2 linked regions of the Homo sapiens genome follow. The protein of the gene in region 1 purifies or fractionates together with the protein of each later gene. This does not show direct contact. Each region holds a gene or a part of one and is shown on either strand. Other genes may lie near its edges.

Region 1 (3,822 bases):
CTTCATCTTTTTTTCCTTGTAAAGTAATGATCGGCAGGTACTTCTAATTTGCCTGCAGAATATGTATTCTAGACTCTTTCATATATGAATATTTCTAACAGAAGCAAAATCTGTTAATTATTCTTTATCTTAGTACTAAGCATCTTTATTAGCTAGCACTCAAGAGCTAAACCTTTAAAAAAGTAAGAGGCCAGGCACAGTGTCTCACGCCTATAATCCCACAACTATGGGAGACTGAAGCAGGAATTGCTTGAGGCTAGGAGTCAGAGACCAGCATGGGCAACATAGCAAGACTCTGTCTCTACAGAAAACTTAAAAAATTAGCTGGGTGTGGTGACACATACCTGTAGCCCCTGCTTCTCAGGAGAATCCCTTGTGCCCAGGAGTTTGAGGCTGCAGTGAGTCATGATCGTGCCACTGCACTCCATCCTGGGTGGTAAAGCAAGAACCTATCTCTTAGAAAAAAAAAAAAAAAAAGCCAAAAAATTAATTTGAAAACACAGGTGTTTGTATGAGGGAGTACTTACTCGTGTGCTTCTGCTTGTTCACCAAACTATAAATGATATCAGCAGTTTCCAAACATAGAGTGACACAGGTTGTGAATGGTGATGGAGATTTTTTCAATTGTGGCATTTTAATGTTCTCAGAACCACAAAGATCAGGCAGTGTGATGTAAGAAAAAGCATTTGATTGAAATCAGGAATTGAGGTTCAGGCCCACTTCTACCACTTTCTTGCTACCACTATGGTTGTGTCTTAGGTCTCTGAGTCTCAACTTCCAGTTTTATAAAATGAGGATAATAGCCCCCATTACTTCACAGGGTTATTACAAGAATCAAATGCACTAAAGCATGTGAAACTGCAGTAGGCTGAAATATGTACCATGCAACTAGGTATACTGACAAATGGGCAAGCAGGTAGCCCAGAGAGGTTAAGTAGTTTGCCCAAGGTTACAGAGCTAGGTTGATTTCTTTTTTTTTCTTTTTCTTTTTCTTTTTTTTTGAGATGGAGTCTTGCTCTGTCTCCCAGGCTGGAGTACAGTGGCGCGATCTCGGCTCACTGCAAGCTCCACCTTCCAGGTTCACGCCATTCTCCTGCCTCAGCCTCCTGAGTAGCTGGGACTACAGGCGCCCGCCACCACGCCTGGCTAATTTTTTTTTTTTTTTAATTTTTAGTAGAGATGGGGTTTCACTGTGTTCACCAGGATGGTCTCGATCTCCTGACCTTGTGATCCGCCCGCCTCAGCCTCCCAAAGTGCTGGGATTACAGGCGTGAGCCACCGTGCCCGGCCTAGATTCATTTCTTAAATGGCTTGAACCCCCATAGTAGTTCTTCCTTATTCTCTCTAGCTGGTTAGAAAAAAAGCGGGGAGGGGAGGGAAGTGCCCTGAACTGGAGTCAAAGTAGCAGATGATAGACAAGCTTTCCCTAAAAACTCTCCTCCTCAAGAAGTAAGATGAACACTGGGATCTTCTACCAACAGGTTTGCACCCCTAGCCACCTCGATGTTAACAGGTTCTGTTCCGTGCCCCAGCCCTTTTGCTTTGTTTTGTTTTAGTCTCAGCAAGCTACTTACAGGCTTCTTTAAGTGGTGTAAAAAGCAAGGGAATTCAAAGCTGTAAAAACTTGAGCCTTGTTTAACCCTCTGCCATGATGAAGGACTTAACAAGGGTCTCCTATGGTGAGCTCACTCCAGCTCACGGGTGGTTGCAGAAAGGGGAATGTTAAGAGTGTTGTGATGCTAAAGCCTCTCAACTTTCTCAGGCCTAAGAGACCCCTAATGGAACTCAGATATCTGATTTCAGTCATTTAATAGCCCTTGAGATGGTGAAAAGACTGTAATGGAAGCTAAGTAGGGTGGTAGTACTTCCATGCCAGCCAGCTCAGTTCCATACCAGAACTTGGGCTAGTGGAGATTTGACTTCAGAAATGTAGATATTTGGCCTTTAGAAGACTAGTTTGTCTTCCTTTAAGGAGAAGAATATGGAAGATTTGTCTTTAGAAATGTAGATGTTTGGCTTTTAAAAGAATAAATGGTTTGTCTTCCTTTAAAAATAGGCTTTTAAAGACACAAGTAAGTTTTAATTTGAGTGTAATTGTAAGGAGGCCACTTTCTAGTTCGTTGGAAAATATGTGTTCAGAAGACAATGTAGTATCAGTTTTTGTCTGATTTTTCAAGTGTTGGTTTCCCTTTTGGTTGAACAGCAGATCTTTCTCGTATATGTGTAATTCTAAAGGATTGTACAGAAAATTAAGGGAGATCTAAATACTTAGATTTTTAAAGTTTATCTGGTGAACTCTGATTTTGGTGATGATAATAAATGACTGCATTGAGGATAATGCATTTCATTGTTATATCCTAATGAAGCTTTAGGGTCATCTTCGCCTCAGAATATTTTGGGGGAGGTTGTTTTGAGAAGATAACTTCTTCAGCTAAAAATGAAAAGTCACCAAATTTTCCTGAAAGTAGACTAGCTCAGTATGACCACAGAGCATTTAAAGAACCATCCAAAGGACAGTGGGGGCTGTGAGGGGATCTAGTTTCTGGTTTAGGATTTCCATTTTTGCTTAGAATCCATTGTTCTTTCAGCAGCCAGGAGCACATGCAACCTGAAGTGTATTTTTTACTTTAAAACTTAACTGTGACTGTCACTTCATTGAAGACTCTCCTAAATTCACAGAACGAGGCTGAGGTCAGACTCTGACACCCTGCTTCTCTCAAATTAACTGTCCCAGCTTCCCAAGAGTTGCTCTCTAATAACTTTCTTGGTTTAACTTCTTAGTGTTTCTCCAGACTGAATTCCTGGCTTGCTCACAGAAGAAGGTCATGTGATGCTGAATCTGAGCCGCCTTGTGTTAATGGAGCGGTCTGCTCAGTTGACAGGCAGTCTTGCTGGGGAGCTGCAGCAAGATGCTTCTCTGGCGGGCTGGGTGTTTCACACGTCATTCATTTTAGACCACGTGTAGAATTCTTTGACCCTTAGGTCTATCTGGAAAAGAAAAAATAGCCATACTTTTTTGGAGGGCTGGCTGCTGGGTCGTGAAGGGCACTGTGTTCTCTCAGGTGTTCATAAAGCTTGGTGCATGTGCTTACAGTTGGTGGCAGAGATGGTCATGAGCTGGTGTGGTGCTGCAAGCTCGAGCTTCCGGTAAGCCTTCTTGAGTTCGACATGTGTCCTCTCTGAGGGAAACCAGCTTCAGTCTCACCTTAATTTGATATCAAAGATGCCTGCATTCACAAACTTTCATTCATCTTCATCTTTTGACATTTGGAGACACCATTAGGGAGCAGCCCAATATTTAGTTTAAAGTACTTTACATAAAGACTGGGAAGCATCCACCAGCAAAAGCCCAGATGGAGAGGGGAGGGGTGGTTCACTTCTTGTCTCTGCCACATCACTCAATCTTGTAGAATATTAGGTTTCTCATTTGTCAAAAGAAGACAGCCTCATCAAGTTTTAAAGGTGCATAGTATGTATAATTTTAAACTTGAAGACCGGGCGCAGTGGCTCACGCTTGTAATCCCAGCACTTTGGGAGGCCGAGACGGGTGGATCATGAGGTCAGGAGATCGAGACGGTGAAACCCCGTCTCTACTAAAAATACAAAAAAATTAGCCGGGCGTGGTGGCGGGCGCCTGTAGTCCCAGCTACTCGGAGAGGCTGAGGCAGGAGAATGGCGTGAACCCAGGAGGCGGAGCTTGCAGTGAGCTGAGACTGCGCCACTGCACTGCAGCCTGGGTGACAGAGCAAGACTCCGTCTCAAAAAATAAAAAAAATAAAAACTAAATAAACTTGAACCCTAACATTTTGTCTGTGAAATGGA
Region 2 (3,822 bases), on another chromosome or scaffold:
TAATTGACTGAGTTGAGGAAGGTGGTCTGACTGTAAGTCTTGCATGGTGGTGTGGTGAAGCCGGGAATGTGAAGAAGCAGTGGCAGACAGTAATGGGAGGGCAGAGCCACAAGAGAGGCTTGCAGTGGGAGGGACCAAGAGAGTTTCAAGTAGGAGGTGAGTTCAGCAGCATCACATCCAGCTGAGAGATCGTGAAGGGTGGTGCTGGAAAGTGACTGGTTAGATCAAAAAGTTAAGGAATCCCAAGTCTCAGTAGCCCACTGAGGTCAGAAGCAGGGTCAGCTGGCTGGGTGAGGAGACTGGTGAAGGTTTAGAATAGCGTAGGTGGAAGGCTGTAGGGTAAGTAGTTGATGAAACAAGACTTCTGGAACATCATGGAGGTCCCAGCTGATGTTGGAGAAAATCTACTTCTCATGACATCTGTTTGCTGGATTTCGTGATTTCCACCTACTTTCTACCACTGCTGCCATCCCCACCAAAACGCCACATTCTTCACTGCGTCCTGAGCCCAGCTACGGCCTTATCCATGTGCCATTTTATTTCTTAGGACACCATGGGAAAAAACACAGCTTCTAGTTCAAGTGTATTTATGTCAGTCTGAGCAAAGATTGAATATGAAAGGCTATCATAATTTTTAAATTATATGAGGTATGACTGAAACTGAAAGTAGTATGGCTCATTTATTTTTCAGTTGTGATTTATATTTTCACAAAGCTTATTGAATACACTTTATCATGATGATTAATGCAAAGCTAGGGCTTTAGGTCCTACTTAGACTGATCTTTTGATGTTACAACCATTTAGTTGCTGTGAGTGAAGAGAACTAATAACTTGAGTTACCTAGTAGACACTTTACAAAAAAATGCAAAAAAATAATTTTTTTCTTCTGTTATAAACATAAATTTGCCATTGGAAAAAAGATACAATTACTCAAAAGCCAACAGTCAGAAGTCTCAGTTGAAGAGCTGATTTGAGGATTGTGTAGTGAGTTTGCCTGAATTTATCTTGAACTCACCCCTACTCAAAACTGCCACCTTATTGGGGCAGGGGGAGGGATGGGGGAGCCAGGTAGTACTCTTTTGGCATTTCGTGGAACTGTGTAGTACTTTAACCTGTGATATGGTGGATGAGGGTGCCTCCCAGCCCTCCTCTACCGACCGTGTACATTAGAGCCTAACGGGGGTGGGGGTGGAGGGATAGGATGCAGCGTGTAACCACTGAAGGGATTGACCAGACTAGAGTTCCACACTGACAGCATCTTAAGAGGATGCCTGGGTTCCATGTATCTCCACCTCCCCATGTTTCTGTAGTTGAATGTTAAGTGTGGCTGTGGTTTTCCCTGCAGAGTTGTTACATTGAAATGATCATGTGGGATTTTATATAGCAACTTGGTTGAAGTATCTGGCAACTGTTGATACATGAGAATAGATATACATTGTGTCAAAATCCTCCAGAAATTTTTGATTTCCAGAAATACCAATCTGGCAACTGTTGATACATGAGAATAGATATACATTGTGTCAAAATCCTCCAGAAATTTTTGATTTCCAGAAATATCAATAATGTGATATGAAGAGCAGAGTATTTGACATCTGTTTTTACCTCTGAAAGTTAAGTATTTTATATAAATTGAAAATGATGAGAAATTCTGAAATGTTAACAAAGAGTATAATTATATTTAAATCCAATTTCAGTTTGAAAGATTTTATAATTATAGGAAAAGCTAGGCAGGTAACGAAACTGCACTGTTCGTCTCATGTATGAGTCTCTCCAGAGACTTAGGTCTAGTTTAAGGAGAGTTTTTTTTCTTCACTTGTCCCTTTTTGGATATTAGTACTCTGGAAATCAGTCTGGGTGGAGGGGACCGATTTATCTCAGGTTCATTAATTATCCATGTCACTTGAAATATATGTACATTGGAATAAAACCCAGCTGAGTTGATTGGGTCGTGTCTCTAGTATTTGAGTTTAGCGTGGTTATGCAAGAGAGTCATTGCCAGAATTCCTGCCCTTAAGATCCATGGCCATACAGTTGATTCACCACCCACCCTCAGGGAAGCGCCCTTATCATAAATGGTAGTTTGGACTCAGAGAAATTGCTATTTGGGGCAGCTAATTTAAGCATATTTGTTAGAATCAGTATTACAGACTAGTTTCTAGCAATCTTAAATATGGTCAGTGTTGACTATCATTCATTCTTACTCCGTTCTGTTTACTCTTTCCTAACTTCACATCTTTTCCCTTCCTCCTCAGACACATAGGTATATTGTCGCACCTTGAGGACACTGTGTCATTGCAGAGCCTGTTCTCCAGATCAGTCATTCACATGTCTTTCACATGCAGAGTTTTTTCCTGTCAGAGGTGATCTAAGAGATCGAGGCCCATCTGCCTGGAATGCTCACGGATGTGCATCAATATTTGCATGCATTCCCAAGTCAGCAAAAGATCGGCAGTGTGGAAGCCGGAAAGATTTCAGTCTCAGCTAGAGTAGGGAATTGGGCTGCTTTGGGAAAGCCCGCAGAGTAGGAGATCTTGAAGTTAGATGAAAAGCAGCTGTAGCAAGTGATAGGAAGAGGCACTGGTTGGATTGACTCGTCTTGACTTTGGGCCACACGGGAAAGGACAGTACTGTCACAGCCTCCGTGTGCATTTAACTTTTTTACTCTAAATATAACACAACCAGAATCTGCAGGGCTGAAATTATTTATATACATATCCACACACTCATGGGATTCTTATGTATAGCCAGGTTGGAGGATCACTGATAGAGCAGTGCTGATCAGTGGCCACAGAGAATGGGAGCAGGGACCCCACTCTCAGAGTATCAGAATCCCTGTATTAGCAATTTAAAAAAACAGCTTAATTAAAAAGTAACCTAAGTCATCAATACAGTGAGAGAATAATACACCATACCCAAGCAAGGTAAATTTCATAGTGAGAAGAGAGTTCAGTATTTGGAAATTTATTATTGTGTTTCATTATGTCACTGATTCACAACCATAGTGTTCCTTCTTTTTAACAATCACACACCTAGTACCCCTTCTTTGTAACAAATATTTTGAACTCTTTGGCAACCTAGAAATAAAATGCACAGATAATGTAATCTTTCTGGGCATATAGTTTAATATATATATAATGTCCTAACATTTTATATTTACATGTATATATACTTGTGAGTATGTCTCTAGCCTTCACAGTTTGCTCTGTTGTATGACTTGTAGGGAATTGAAAAGTAGGTCTTCAGAGTATATTTTTAAAGGGCTCCCACAAATCAGTTTAGAAGGAAATAATTACTTGCAAATGGTATTGGGACAGTGTGTTAGCTACAGTCACTGGGCAAAACATTTGTTTGGTTATTCACCACACATACACTAAAAGAAACTGCAGATGGACGAAAATTAGATACAAATAATTTTTTTATGTTTAAAGAAAAATAAGACCAGGCATGGTAGCTCATGCCTGTAATCCCAACAATTTGGGAGACTAAGGAAGGAGAATTGCTTAAGCCCAGGAGTTTGAGACCACCCTGGACAACATAGCAAAACCCCTTCTCTACTAAAAAAAAAAATATAAATAAATAAATAGACTTCCGGAAAAGGTGGAATTTTACATCTTAAAAAAGAATGGAAGAGCAGGCACGGTGGTTCGCACCTGTAATCCCAGCACTTTGAGAGGCCAAGGCAGGCAAGTCACTTGAGGTCAGGAGTTCGAGACCAGCCTGGCCAACATGGTGAAACCCCATCTCTACTAAAAATTTAATAATTAGCCAAGTGTGGTAGCGTGGGCCTGTAATCCCAGCTACTCGGGAGTCTAAGGCAGGGAA

What was found.
Region 2: the proteins of FOXO3 (region 1) and TAF5L purify together in Homo sapiens (affinity purification with mass spectrometry; one large-scale study listed by BioGRID and IntAct). This does not show direct contact.

Annotation. Positions count from the first base shown.
Region 1 is NC_000006.12:108,665,353-108,669,174, forward strand, and holds part of FOXO3 (forkhead box protein O3), read left to right. Parts: intron 1-3,822. UniProt on the Homo sapiens protein: Transcriptional activator that recognizes and binds to the DNA sequence 5'-[AG]TAAA[TC]A-3' and regulates different processes, such as apoptosis and autophagy.
Region 2 is NC_000001.11:229,616,120-229,619,941, reverse strand, and holds part of TAF5L (TAF5-like RNA polymerase II p300/CBP-associated factor-associated factor 65 kDa subunit 5L), read left to right. Parts: intron 1-3,822. UniProt on the Homo sapiens protein: Functions as a component of the PCAF complex. The PCAF complex is capable of efficiently acetylating histones in a nucleosomal context. The PCAF complex could be considered as the human version of the yeast SAGA complex.